Homo sapiens: one gene and its partner. The protein of the gene in region 1 interacts with the protein of each later gene in a pairwise test. Each region holds a gene or a part of one and is shown on either strand. Other genes may lie near its edges.

Region 1 (7,033 bases):
TAGCACAGCATGGTGGCATGTGCTTGTGGTCCCAACTACTTGGGAGGCCGAGATGGGAGGATCACTTGAGCCTGGGAGGTTGAGGCTGTGATCACGGTGAGCTGTGATCGTGTCACCACACTCCAGCCTGGGCGAATGATGTTTTTAAATGAAGTGGAATGCGGTCAGATGAGAATGAAAGAACACCCTTCATCTGAGTGCTCTTGCCAGTGCAGTGCGGTGCCTGACGCTAAGCACTTCAATCTCCACTGTCACCACTCATGGACCTAACAGGCCACTCCTCTTTAGAGATTAGGAAGTGAGAGTGGGAAGCCAGCACCCAAAGCAAACACAAGGCAAACGGGCACACGTGACCCCTTGTGCCAGCAGCAGCAGACCTCAGGAGGGAGGAAGGAGCCAGGTCTCTGCACTGCTCCGGCTGCCCGAGCTCCCTTACATCCCACCACAAACTCTGGAAGACTGCTCTGTGCAGGAAAGCAGAACTGGGGGCCAGCTTGCTTGCCTGTAAGCCCCACCATGTCTTCCAAAAAATCACCAGCACCTCATCTTCCTGCAACTCCAGCGATCGGCCAGAGGAAGGCTATGTGCCCCTGGAGGCTGTGGGCAGTGCCAACAGTATTAACACACACGGAGGGAGAAGGACCTTCTGCCTCAGTCCAGAAGCCGAGTGTGAGCACACGCTCAGGAACAGGCTCATAGGGCCTAGCCAGAGCTGACCTTGGCAGGTACTTTTGCTCCCTTCTTGGTAAGTAAAATGGGATTATTCAGGGGCTCAGACCCACCACTTCACCAGCTTAAGTGCTACCAGTACTAACAGCTTCACGTATTTAAATCATACCCCAGGCCCCTCCCCAACACACAAAAAAGAAATGTAAAATTACAGAGAAGCATTAAAATGTCATCTACCTGGAAAGAATAACAGAAACCTAGAAGTTCAGAAACAGGTCTCATTTCATATTCCTGCAGCAGAAGGATATTTAGGATATTTGGCAAGGGTGCAAGTCAGGGTCAGGATGGGTCTCTGGGAAGCCAGGGCTGCCTGAGGCAGGTGGCTGTGAGGCCTGTCTGGGCAGGGAGGTCAAGGCTAAGTATCTCCTTGGAAACTGGTCCAAGGTTTGCTTGGTGATTGATCAGGAAGAACAGGGGTGGGGCCCATATTATGTGAGGTGTTTGATCCACAAGGGATCCTGATCTTTGCAGGAAGCCTTGCTGGTGGAATCTAGGACTTCAGGGGTGGTAACTTCATCTGCCCTGGGGTGGTTATTCGGTTCAGGTCAAGGACATTGACCACAGGATTCCAGCAGCAGAAAACATGTGGGTTAGACACTTGGGTGCTACTCGGGCCTGAAAAAAACACCTTAATTGGAGCTGGCTCTCAAAGCCTCCTCCCCAGCTCTCCATGTGGGAGAGGATATGGAAGTGGGTCACAATCTTCTAGCTGAAACAGCGTCACTGCGGGCTCCAATCACACTTGAAGATGTCCAGGTGCACTGAGTGACCTGGCCTCCTCGCTGTGCAGGCCTTGCCTTCCTAATCAGATGCTGGATGCTGCTGCCCCGCCCCTCAGCTTGAAGGGCCAGCTGATTAGCACCGGGAGTGCCACATACAGTGACATGACAAGGGCTGGTGAAAATAACATCGCACAAGGATATGCCTCGCTGTCCTGGCACCCTCCTCTCACTCCAAATGTGAGTGGCTGCCTCTGCCAGCCCTTTGCCCTCTCTACCCAGCCCTGGCTGGAGGGAGAGAGGAACACTGTGTGCTTTCACATGAACTGCTTGCTAGACCTCCCTGACCTTGGTCTTTGAAGAGAGCTGAAGGCCTGGTGCTTGGGGAAGAAAGAACCCTGCCCCCACTCTAATCTGTATATATTGACCCAAAATGGGGGCCAGAGGACATAGGTGTCCATGTGCATCAGTTCCCCCAGGAACCCCATGAGCACTGTGGAGAGCCCGCCTGCCACCATATGCCTGCTTTCCAAAGTTGGCAGCGAGAGACGTGTCGGGCAGGAAGAGAACTCTGCAGAGACAAGGTCTGGCGCCTGTTACATAAGAAGTGCACCGTGTTAATGGCAGAACTTCAAAATCCACAGCCCCAAGCAAAAACTTTGAAAAGAAATCCTCAATATGAGCATTTCTCCCTGACTGAAACTCAAGTTAACAGTCAAAGGGTTAAGGCTTTAAGTGGGAAGGGAGTTCTTGCTAACCATGGCTCCTGAGGTGTGCACTGTTTCTCAAGATGTCCATACCAAGTACAGCTTTTGTTACAGGACACGGAAGGGCTCTAATTGTTTCACTCTTCCCTTGCTCTTCTGGAAAGCCAACCCAGCCCCCCACCTTAATGTCCACTCAGGGCAGGTAGCCACTGGGGCCAGTGTGCATCTGGAGATCATGTCCTGACTCTCCTCCTAAGAGTTCAAAGCACTCTCATCAAATCATTCTTTCTTCATTCACACGATCCCAACTATATAATAAGCCTTTTGGTCCTAGACTAAGAGCTTGGTATGGGGAAGAACTTTTTTTTTTTTCTTTTTTTTTGAGACAGAGTCTCACTCTATTGCCCAGGCTGGAGTGCAATGGTGCAATCTCAGCTCACTGCAACCTCCGCCTCCAGCGTTCAAGCAATTCTCCTGCCTCAGCCTCCCGAGTAGCTGGGACTACAGGTGCGTACCACCACGCCAGGCTAATTTTTTGTATTTTTAGTAAAGACGGGGTTTCACCATGTTAGCCAAGATGGTCTCAATCTCCTGACCTCGTGATCCGCCTGCCTTGGCCTCCCAAAGTGCTGGGATTACAGGCGTGAGCCACCACGCCCGGCTGGGGAATAACTATTTTTGTCCTGCTTGCCACGATATTCCTAGTACCTATGATGGTGTCCAGATTGTAATAAAGCCTTAATAAATATTTGTTAATTGAATCAATGAGTCATTAGAAGGAAGGAGGGGAGGGAGGGAGGAGTAATGGAAGACAACCACCACTTCTTGGTGTCTCTGTGATCCTGGCTTATAAAAAACATCAGAACCAAGATTAGAAACCAAGCCCTTTAACTCCCTCTTGGCCCTGCCATTGGGGGTCCTCAATCATGTTATGATGCACAGAACACATACCTGTTTACAGAAGTTTCTACACTACAACACAACCATGAAAAATGGAGCCACAGGTATGACCCTCAATCCTTAAGAAACTTCAAAAGGGGAGAACAATGTTTTTGTCCAGCTATTCCCCCACAGAAGGACACCCTTCCCTCTGGGGACTGTTGTCTTTCCCTTTTTAACAAGGCTTCATGGAAGACCAGAGCATAATAGGTCTTTAATAACTGAGTATAACAGTAGTTGGTGCTCAGTTCCCTTTCATAAAAGAAGTTCAAAAGCACTTTGGCTCAAACACCACCATGCCCCTGGGAACTACGAAGGTACAAGTATCATTATCCCCATTTACAGTCAGGGAAAGTAAAGCAAAGGGAGGCTACTTAGCTTGCCCAGGGTCAGACAAGACAGGGAAAGGGCCTAGGATTCAAACCCTTTGGAGCAGCCAGCAAGTTAACTCTGACTACCCTAAGAGTATCACCTACATTGGGCTTAAGGGAGGCTTTTCTTTCTTCTCTATGGTTTCTGCTGAGAATCAGTATATGACATGGTGCTCAGAGCTCTGCCTGGGAGTCATACTGCCTGGTTTGAATCTGATTCTGTTCCCAACTAGCTCGACCTCAAACACTTTACTTAACTTTTCTAGGCCTCAGCTTCTTAACATACAAAATGGTAATAATGGTACGTATCTCAGAAACCGTGAGGATGAAATGAGACAGTGTATGTAAAATGCCACTATCATTCACTTTCTCATTTTCTAAATGAGCACGTATCATTCTCATAGTAAGAAAACCAGCTACATGAGAAAAAGCTTGCACCCACTCTGCGTTTAGTTTTTACAAATCTACAGATGACATATGACTAGCAGGCATTTCAGATTCTGCCAATAAAATGCCCCAGGACTCTGAAAGTGACCTGCAACACAAGCGTCCTATTTGATTCCCACTAACTTGTGTTGGTCTCTCCAGGTTAGCAGAGCAAGTGGCATCGTGGACAACTGATGGGAGGACCAAAAAGGGATCTGAAAAGCTGGCCAATGGCACCCAGTCTAAAGAGTCCCACTCTGGATTCCTGGTGAGTGGAGCCCCTGGGTTTGAAATGCCATTTCTCTCAGCGCTCTGCTGAGTTACCCAACTCCGCTCAGCCCAGATGAAAGACAACCAATGCTTTCTAGATACCACTGTGTTCCTGATCAAGTAATCAAACAGGAGATGGTCAGAGTTGCCAGTGTGGCCCAACCCTCTATAGAGGGGCCTGGTGATGGCAGGGACTGGCAGAGAAGTAGGGATAGGGTGGGGGTAGGAAAGCTGTCCAGTCAATCTTGGTATACTCTCAACAAAGAAACAGTGATATACATGTATGTGTGTCGCTGATGCATTTATGAAGAATGGCTGCAAAACTCCAAGACTACTTAAGAGTCACTGCCAAGATAAGAAGCTTTAACTCACACAGAGAGGAGCAGAGAACACAGACATTCCACTGTAGACGACAAGCTGCTAAGCACTGGCAACATTCATTCATTCAACTCAAGAAATGTTTGCTGATGACTTAGGGACTCGGAAAAAAGGAAGCTCAATAAAATGCAGGACACACAGACACACATACCAGGACTGTCATCAACCTAGCTGATGCTTCCCTCATCTTCAGGGGACCAGGCCAGAGAAATAAGGAACCTGATGGGAAGAAACTCAATACTCTGGCTGGCCTCAAAAACCTCCCAGGACAAGGAGAGCCTATTCCAGCCGCTCTTCGTAATGTCCTGTTCTGTCTTTTAGTGTGGACTCAAATATTCTCCTAGACCCCAGGAAAAGTTCCCATGCAGTGACTTCCCACTGTTCAGAATTCAAAAGTAAAATCCAAACTCCTAACCACAGCCACAAATTTGGCCCCTGCTGATTCATCACTAACCACACTCCAGCCCCTCTGGGTTGATCATTCTTGCAGTCCTCTCTGTCCACAAAGCTGTCCCCCTAGATCACCATCCATGTCTCCCAAAAGCCACCTTCTCAGAGCTAAAGTTATGACCCTAACCCTCGTCCCATCCACTTTCTATCTTCTGTTTTATTTTCCCCCGTATCTCTTTCACCACCCTACATTCTTTTTTTTTTTGAGACAGAGTCTTGCTTAGTCGCCCAGGCTGGAGGGCAGTGGCACGATCTTGGCTCACTGCAAGCTCCGCCTCCCGGGTTCACGCCATTCTCCTGCCTCAGCCTCCTGAGTAGCTGGGACTACAGGCGCCCGCCCCCATGCCCGGCTAATTTTTTTTTTTTTTGTATTTTTAGTAGAGACGGGGTTTCACCATGTTACCCAGGATGGTCTCGATCTCCTGACCTGGTGATCCACCCGCCTCGGCCTCCCAAAGTGCTGGGATTACAAGCGTGAACCACCGCGCCCGGCCTCACCACCCTACATTCTTTTGTTGACTCGTTTATTTGTTTACTATCTGTCTCTCCCACTAGAAGATAAACTTCATAAGAGCATGCCTCTTAAAGACCGTGTTCTTGGCTACGTCCATAGCATCCGCAACAGTGCCTAGCACATAGGTGCTCAATCAGTCATTCAATTCAACAAATATTTTCAGAGTACTACAAAGTTTAGGTACTATATTATAAGAGTAGACAAAAAGAGACAAAAATCTCTGCTCTCAAAGAGCTTAAATGCTGGTGGGAGCTAAGAAGCAGATAAAAAAAGGCGAAATAATGGTTACTTCAATTTAGCATATACCAAGTGCTAGGTGGTCTTCTGAGTATCTACTAGGTATTACTTAATTTAATCCTCCCAACAACTCCATGAGGAAAGTATTACTATTGTGCATATGGGGAAACTGAGACACAGAGAGATTAAGTTACCTGCTGAAGATCATGCAGCTCCTGAAGGCAGAACCAAGATCCAAACCTGATGGTCTTGGTACAAAGTCCATGGTCTAATTAAGAGCTACACTTCAGGCCAGGCACGGTGGCTCACGCCTGTAATCCCAACACTTTAGGAGGCCGAGGTGGGTGGATCGCCTGAGGTCAGGAGTTCGAGACCAGCCTGACCAACATGGTGAAACCCCATCTCTACTAAAAATACAAAAATTAGCCAGACGTGGTGGCACACGCCTGTAATCCCAGTTACTTGGGAGGCTGAGGCAGGAGAATCGTTTGAACCCAGGAGGCAGAGGGTTGCAGTGAGCCAAGATTGTGCTATTGCACTCCAGCCTGGGCAACAAGAGCAAAACTCCATCTAAAAAAAAAAATAATAATAAAGAGCTACACTTCATATTTGCTGAGTGTCAAGTGACTACTTGGTCAGCACCAGCAGCAGCTGTTCCCCACAGGCAAGGATGGAGAGAGCAGATCCATCAAGGAAGGGCTGCCCTGTCATGTGAGCCCTGTGAACAAGACACTGCTGGGTTTACACTATATTGCACCCTGGATGAGGAGTCTACAAGAAGCATGGTCTGATGAAAAGACAGGGGCAGGGGCAGGAGTCTTGGTGCGATGAGATGCCCAGGCAAGTCAACCAATATTTGAAGAGTTTACATTTTGTGCAGGGCGCTGATTCAGACACTGTGGACGATGCAAAGACAAACCCAGTAGAGATTCTGGCCTCAGAAAGCTTAGAGTCACATGTGTACACATGGAGATGAAATGGGGTAGAAACTAGCAGGCATCATAAGAAAATGCATAAACTGCTATAAGATTTCAAAAGAGCCAGCTTCTAGGGGACACAGACGCTTAACCATAAAAGAAGGGGCTGGCCTGTGTAACCCCCAAGGTCCTCTCATTCTGACATGTTCTGACAGCACAGATTTGGAGCAGCATGGAGATAAGTTTTATTCTGTTTTTTGGGGAGTTTTTTTGTTTTTTGTTTTTGAGACAGAGTCTTCCTCCGTCGCCCAGGCTGGAGTGCAGTGGCACGATCTTGGCTCACTGCAACCTCCACCTCCCTGGTTCAAGCGATTCT
Region 2 (7,033 bases), on another chromosome or scaffold:
ATGTGCAGATGAGTAATACTTGCCAGTGAATAGGAAATAAAACAAGTGACTTAAGAAGCCCCAAACTGAGTTTATTGGGGTATAGAATGGGGGATAATAAGTAACTCCAGTATATTCAGGTAAAGTCTGATATAGCTTGGGATATCTAAAATATAACACCAGGGCTACTCTAGGGTCAAAAGTCCCCAAGAGAAAACAGGAAAAGTAGACATTTCTCTCAAAAAAGTCAGGAAACAGGACACTGTACCAATGCTTACAACCTCATCCATGTTCCCAATGACTTCCCTGACTTGTCCATTCTTGCATCACTTCAAGTCATCAACATCTTTCCATTTTTTAGCCCAAATTACTGGATGAGAAGAAAGTCTTTTTCAGAAGAATAAGGTGGTTCTCATTCTTTTTCTCAGTGCCATCTGGTTCCAGTCAAAAGGTAAACTTCTTTACAAAGAAAAGTGTTAGCAACTATAAGCTCTGGAAAGACCAGCATCAGGGCCTCTTCCCACCCACTAAATCTAATTTCCTATCTCTAGAAGCTACTGTGGCTAAACTCTTAGAAACCAGTTACATTGGCTGGGCATGGTGGCTCATGCCTGTAATCCCAGAACTTTGGGAGGCTGAGGCAGGCAGATCACCTGGGGTCAAGGGTTTGATACGAGCCTGGCCAACATGGTGAAACCCTGTCTGCTAAAAATACAAAAATTAGCCAGGTGTGGTGGTGTGCACCTGTAATCCCAGCTACTAGGGAGGCTGAGGCAGGAGAACCACTTGAACCCAGGAGGCGGAGGCTGCAGTGAGTCGAGATCATGCCGCTGCACTCCAGCCTGGGCAACAGAGCAAGACTCCATCTCAAAAAAAGAAAGAAACCAGTTATGTTATACAGAAACTCTCATTCAGCTTAGAATTTTTACCCAAACAGTAAATGAGGTTTAGAATATAATGTTTTTCAAAGTTTGCAAGAACCTGGCATTAGCAGGGTAATTTCATCACAAACTCCCCGTTTTCCAGATGTCCAGTTATGATCTATTTAAATCCCGCCGTCCACTTTCTCTTCTAATTGCCTATTATCCAGCTGACAGGAGCTTCCAAGAAACATGATATAGTATGCACTGCAGTATACTGGCTGCTTGTTGGGACTGGAATAGACCTGTTCAGGTTTGAGGGACATGAAAGGATTAGACCCAAAGGCAGTGATGTGTGTATCCAGTTCCACCAGAATCTGCAAAGAGGATACCAACTCCTGATGGCTGTAGAAGAGAGAGAAGAAAAATTACTCTACTGATTGTGACAGAGATAAAGGAAAAACTGCCCAAGAGCCTGACATTTCTGTAATCACCCATCCCCCAAATTGCCTAAGGCTGGACTAGGCAAGGGCTATCTTTCCCTCCCAAATGTCTCATTAAATATTCCATTAACTAGCAAAGGACTGTTCCAAGGGGATAAAAAAGCCATATGCGGAAAAGAACATCCTCACCAGAAGGTAGATGAGCAAGAGGGGGGCAAAAATGAGCTCATCTATATAAAGAGAGATGTAAAGTCAGGGAAGTATCACAAATAGGATGAGGTCAAAACCTGTAAACAGTAATCAATGTAGGAATCTTATAGTCACGAAGTAGCAGCAGGGTGGGCAGCCAAGCCTCCATCAAGTCTGGGGAGGAATGAAAACCTGTGGAACAAAAATGAAAATGGGAATAGGGAAAGACTAAAGCAGACCCTAAGAGCAAGATATTTCTTTGACTGTGAGCACCCCACCCCTCACCTTGCTTATCCCCAGTCATTATCATCATCATCATCATCCACTCTTCAATGAAAAATTCTGAACCCAAGTGTAGTACATATGGCAAATTATCAAGAAAAGTTGTCATCAGGCTGGGCGCGGTGGCTCACGCCTGTAATCCCAGCACTTTGGGAGGCAGAGGCGGGCGGATCATAAGGTCAGGAGATCGAGATCATCGTGGCTAACACAGTGAAACCCCGCCTCTACTAAAAATACAAAAAATTAGCCAGGCGCCTGTAGTCCCAGCTACTCGGGAGGCTGAGGCAGGAGAATGGCGTGAACCCGGGAGGTGGAGCTTGCAGTGAGCCGAGATCGCGCCACTGCACTCCAGCCTGGGCGACAGAGCGAGACTCCGTCTCAAAAAAAAAAAAAGAAAAAAAAAAAAAGAAAAGTTGTCATCATATTGTGTTTAATGAGACCAAATGAATGGGGTTCCAAAGACAGAAGATTCAGGATGGAAAATTCTCAGGGGAGCCACCCTCTATTCCCCTGAACCAATGACTCTTACCTGGATGGAATGCCGCCACCAAATCTGGATGGTGTGTCTGCCCGGTCTCTACTTGCTCCTCCCAGAAGTCATGGTAGAGGCCCCTGTGGGCACTAAGCTGAATTGTGCCAGGTTCCAGGGGTGAAGTTGAGGTGCTCTGTGAAAAGCCAGTAGCTACATCTACACCCACCATGACCACACGGAGTCCAAGGTGCCCAGGAAACATGTAACCAAGCTCATCATAGTCCCCTGGGCGAGTAAGAAATGTCTCCACATGGGAAGCACCAACCACATGCACTGTGCTTCCCCCAGTCCTCCTAACATCTATCCCCAAGGCCCTAAGTCCTAGGCCTAGAGTCAAGGGCCGTGACAGGACATCTGTCAGCAGCCGCTTCAAAGATCCCTGCAGGACATCCGGGTCTGGCCTTGGCCGTCCTACACTGGCCCATAAGGTGGTCACAGCATGACTAACTAGCACAGCATCCAATGTAGCATCTAGGTGTAACCCCTTCATAGAAAACCAGGAGTCCCAGTCCTGTACAGCTTCAGGTGGCCATGGCCAAGGTCCTGAGGGTAGAACAAAATCACCTGTAGGAAAGAAGAAATAAGAAGTAACCTAATGCTTTCCTGGCTTCAAAATTTCCCCCTCACTAATGATCAATATTCCCTCCATGTTCACTCTGCCAACCTGTGAGCAGGCGTGCCCCATCCTTTGCCCCACTTCCTCATTTTTTCATAACAATATGATTTTGTATCTTCCTTTAAATGCAATCAACTATGACCATTATGGCAGAGATCCTCAACACCACCACTCCACCTGTGACCAGAAGCCATTCCATGAGACGGTCCACAGCCACAAGACGAAGCTCTTGACAAACCCTCCTGTGTGCGGGCCAGTCTGACTTCTGGCACTCTGGACCACAGTAATAGACATTTCTGCACCTGAGAGAATGAGAGAGAAATAGTTCTTATACTATAAATATGATTGGGGTTATCGGAGGAAAGGAACTGATATTCCTGCACCTAGGATGGTGAATGGGTAAGGAAGGTAGGGAGAGGAATGAGAGCTGATGCACCAATTTTGGGGACTACATTTGGCAGACAAGGCAGGAGGGATTGGGAATATAATTATTCTGCCAGACAGAGTGATACCTTACTCTCTATCTGGAACAACTCACTTTTTATATCACTTTTAGAAAAAACACCACGAGTTTGCAGCTGTCCTCTCATAACAGGTATGGTTCAACCTCCACCTCCCCAGAACAAATGTAGTCTTACTCCTTGAGTACTCAAGAGAGAGACAGAGAGGATTGTATTGTGGTTTCTTGTCTCACTTCCCAATAACACCAAAAATAAGCAGGATTAGAACACTGTTCTAATCTCTGTAGCCTGGGTGACAAAAAATGAGGACCTAAGTCTTAGGTTATTTTGAAAACTTTCAGATCTTTCCTCTTGGAATGAGGTTGTAGTAGAAGGTCATTGCTTTTTTTTTTTTTTTTTTTTTTTTGAGACAGAGTCTCGCTCTGTCATCCAGGCTGGAGTGCAGTGTGCAATCTTGGCTCACTGCAACCTCTGCCTCCTGGGTTCAAGCAATTCTCCCACCTCAGCCTCTCGAGTAGCTGAGACTACAGGTGTGTGCCACCACACCAGGCTAATTTTTGTATTTTTAGTAGAGACAGGGTTTTGCTGTGTTGGCCAGGTTGGCCTCATGTGATCCACCTGCCTCGGCCTCCCAAGGTGCTGGAATTACAGGCATGAGTCATCATGCCCGGCTAATACAGGATCATTTCTGAATGTCTCCCTATTAGCCCCCAACAAGTCACCTCTTACAGTGCCGGAGAACCTTGGAGTCTGAAAGCCCACTAGGGAGTGCTCTACAGTGAGCACAGAATCGAAATGTGTCTTCCATCCTCTGGAACATTTCTTGAGGACATCGAAATCCAAAGCCTGATACGGGGGTACCCCCATCTACCACCAACCTGCAGAGACAGCATGGAGAAGGAATGACAATGGGGAAAGGAATATCTCCAAAATCTCTCATGCCCCCCATCTTGTCTCCTACACATTTCCACTTACTCCTATGTCTCCCACTGCCATCATTTTTCACTTAAGTGAATGTTTCTTCTTTTATAGTAATATAGTAACTGGCAAAAGGATGAGAAAATCTCTTATTGCAAATACTCCATATTCACCAAACTGTACTCCCTCTCCACCTTCTGAAATTTACTTCTACCAGAGACAATATATCCCTTTTCCATAGAGCTGGTCACTCACTTATATTCTTCATAGCTTTTCATGTTCAGCTTTTGAAGGATCAGCTGCGATAGGCCAGGAACATTATCATCCAAGGAGAAGAAGCCAAGTGTGTCAATGCTAGGGCCAGGTTTTGAGGGGGTCAGAGGCACAGGGGTCACAATTGTGGTTGGGGCCATGATGATGGGAGCCACTGATGAGGGAGGTTTCTTGTGCCTTCGTCGCCGGGACCGTGGAGCCATGGCCTGTCCAGTGATACCTGGAGATTATATGCAGAATAGACATGGAATGGAATTTTACAAGCTGGACACTTGTGAAGTATTTTCATATGCTTGACCTTTCATTTCTCATTCCAGTCTCTCAGACCCAGGTTATCAGTAAGATTTATTCAGTATTTACTGGTTATTGATCACCATAGGCAGCTGTGGAAAATAGGGAAGAAGTAATTTGTTGTTGTTGTTGTTTTTTGAGACAGAGTCTTGCTCTGCCGCCCAGGCTGGAGTACAGCAGCATAATCTCAGCTCACTCCACCTCCTAGGTTCAAGCGATTCTCCTGCCTCAGCCTCCCGAGTAGCTGGGACTACGGGCAGGCGCCACCAGGCCCGGCTAATTTTTGTATTTTTTAGTAGAGATGGGGTTTCACCATGTTGGTCAGGCTGGTCTCAAACTCCTGACCTCAGGTGATCCACCCACCTTGGCCTCCCAAAATGCCAGGATTACAGGCTTGAGCCACCGCACCCAGCCAAGAAGAAGTAATTTTATATGAATATAATTTACACATAGTAAGTCCTATACATTATATATATATATACACACACATATATATATATAAGTAAATGCATCAAAAAAGATTTGGCAGGGCCCATAGAAAACTGGTAACAGCTGGGCGTGGTGGCTCACGCCTGTAATCCCAGCACTTTGGGAGGCTGAGGCGGGCGGATCACCTGAGGTCAGGAGTTCAAGACCAGCCTGGCCAACATGGTGAAACCCCATCTGTACTAAAAATACAAAAAATTAGCTGGACGTGGTGGTGGGTGCCTATAATCCCAGCTACTTGGGAGGCTGAGGCAGGAGAACTGCTTGAACCCAGGAGGCGGAGGTTGCGGTGAGCCGAGATCGCACCATTGCACTCCAGCCTGGGCAACAAGAGCAAAACTCTGTCTCAAAAAAAAAAGAAAACTGGTAACAGTGATTAACTCTGAATAGTTTAAGAAGGCAGTTAAATAGGAACTGGGCTGATCAAATGGAACTGTATACTTACCTGTAATGTTTGACTTTTTTAATAAGGAGAAAATATTAATATAGCTTTAATGTATTTTAAAACTCAATTTAAAAGAAGAAAAAGCAATAGAAGTTTTAATTCTCCAAAGTGACCATCCAATTGGAGAGTTAGACAGTTTAATATAGAGAGATAAAACATTTATTTTGAAAGACCTATTATCACATGTATAAGCAATAAGCCAAGAAGTAAAAATTAAATGTAATACAAAACGTGCACTAAGAGTTATGTAGTCAAGCAAGTCAGAAAAATTTCCTAAAGTGGTAAGTTTTGAGGTAGAAGTAAGCCTACACTCAGTCACGATCTGGCTGTGACTCTGTGCTGTCCTCTTTCCCTGTCTCATCTTCTGCCATGCCTTCCATAAGAGCTGAGTAAACAGAAAGGACCATATGAGAAAAATTAAAATGTCCATTCATGTAATATATATTTACTGATAAACAGATGAAATCATTTGCGAAACACTATATATAGAAGCAAATATGAGAAATATATATCTAAATGTCTTGCAGGGAGATTAGATGTAGACTATAAGGTACTATATAAATCCAACCAGAAAAGTGCAACTAAAGCACTAATGGGAGATCAGAAGAAGAAAATCTCTTCAGTGGGCGAGAATCTCTTCAGTGGCTTTCTTCATGAAGCAGGTGGCAGTTGGAATAGACCTTGAAAGATGGGAATACTTTGAATACTTGGAAATAGGGAAAAAATAAATTCTAAGCACAGAGGAGAGAATAAACACAGAAATATAGACAGAAACATTCTGCAAATTAATGAAATAGAATGACTCGAGTTTGAATGTTTAAAGTATAAAGACCTAAACTTAAGAAGTAAAACTATAAAAGTCTATGGGGAAAGGTTCATGACATAGGTTTGGCAATAATTTCTAGGATATGACACCAAAAGCACAGGCAACACCACCACCACCAAAATAGATAAATTGGACAGCAAAATTAAAAACTTTTGTGCATCAAAGGATGCTAAACTAACAACAGAGTCAAATGACACCCCAAGAATGGAAGAAAATATTTGCACACCATATATCTGATAAGGGGTTAGTATTCAAAATATATAAAGAATTCCCACAACTCAATAACAAACAAAAAAACCACCAAACAACCCAACTAAAAAATTGGGCATAACATGTGAATAGGCATTTTCCCAAAGAATATATGCAAATGGACAATAAACACAAGAAAATATGCTCAATAGTCATTAGGAAAATGCAAATCAGAACCACAGT

What was found.
Region 2: the proteins of CTNNBIP1 (region 1) and MSS51 interact in binary tests that used the Homo sapiens proteins (3 or more experiments, as listed by UniProt).

Annotation. Positions count from the first base shown.
Region 1 is NC_000001.11:9,900,247-9,907,279, forward strand, and holds part of CTNNBIP1 (beta-catenin-interacting protein 1), read right to left. Parts: intron 1-7,033. UniProt on the Homo sapiens protein: Prevents the interaction between CTNNB1 and TCF family members, and acts as a negative regulator of the Wnt signaling pathway.
Region 2 is NC_000010.11:73,423,529-73,430,561, forward strand, and holds the end of MSS51 (putative protein MSS51 homolog, mitochondrial), read right to left. Parts: exon of another isoform or gene 4,774-7,033; 5' UTR 4,757-4,773; coding exon 4,536-4,756; intron 4,241-4,535; coding exon 4,085-4,240; intron 3,204-4,084; coding exon 3,079-3,203; intron 2,850-3,078; coding exon 2,283-2,849; intron 1,664-2,282; coding exon 1,570-1,663; intron 1,245-1,569; coding exon 1,025-1,244; 3' UTR 51-1,024; downstream 1-50.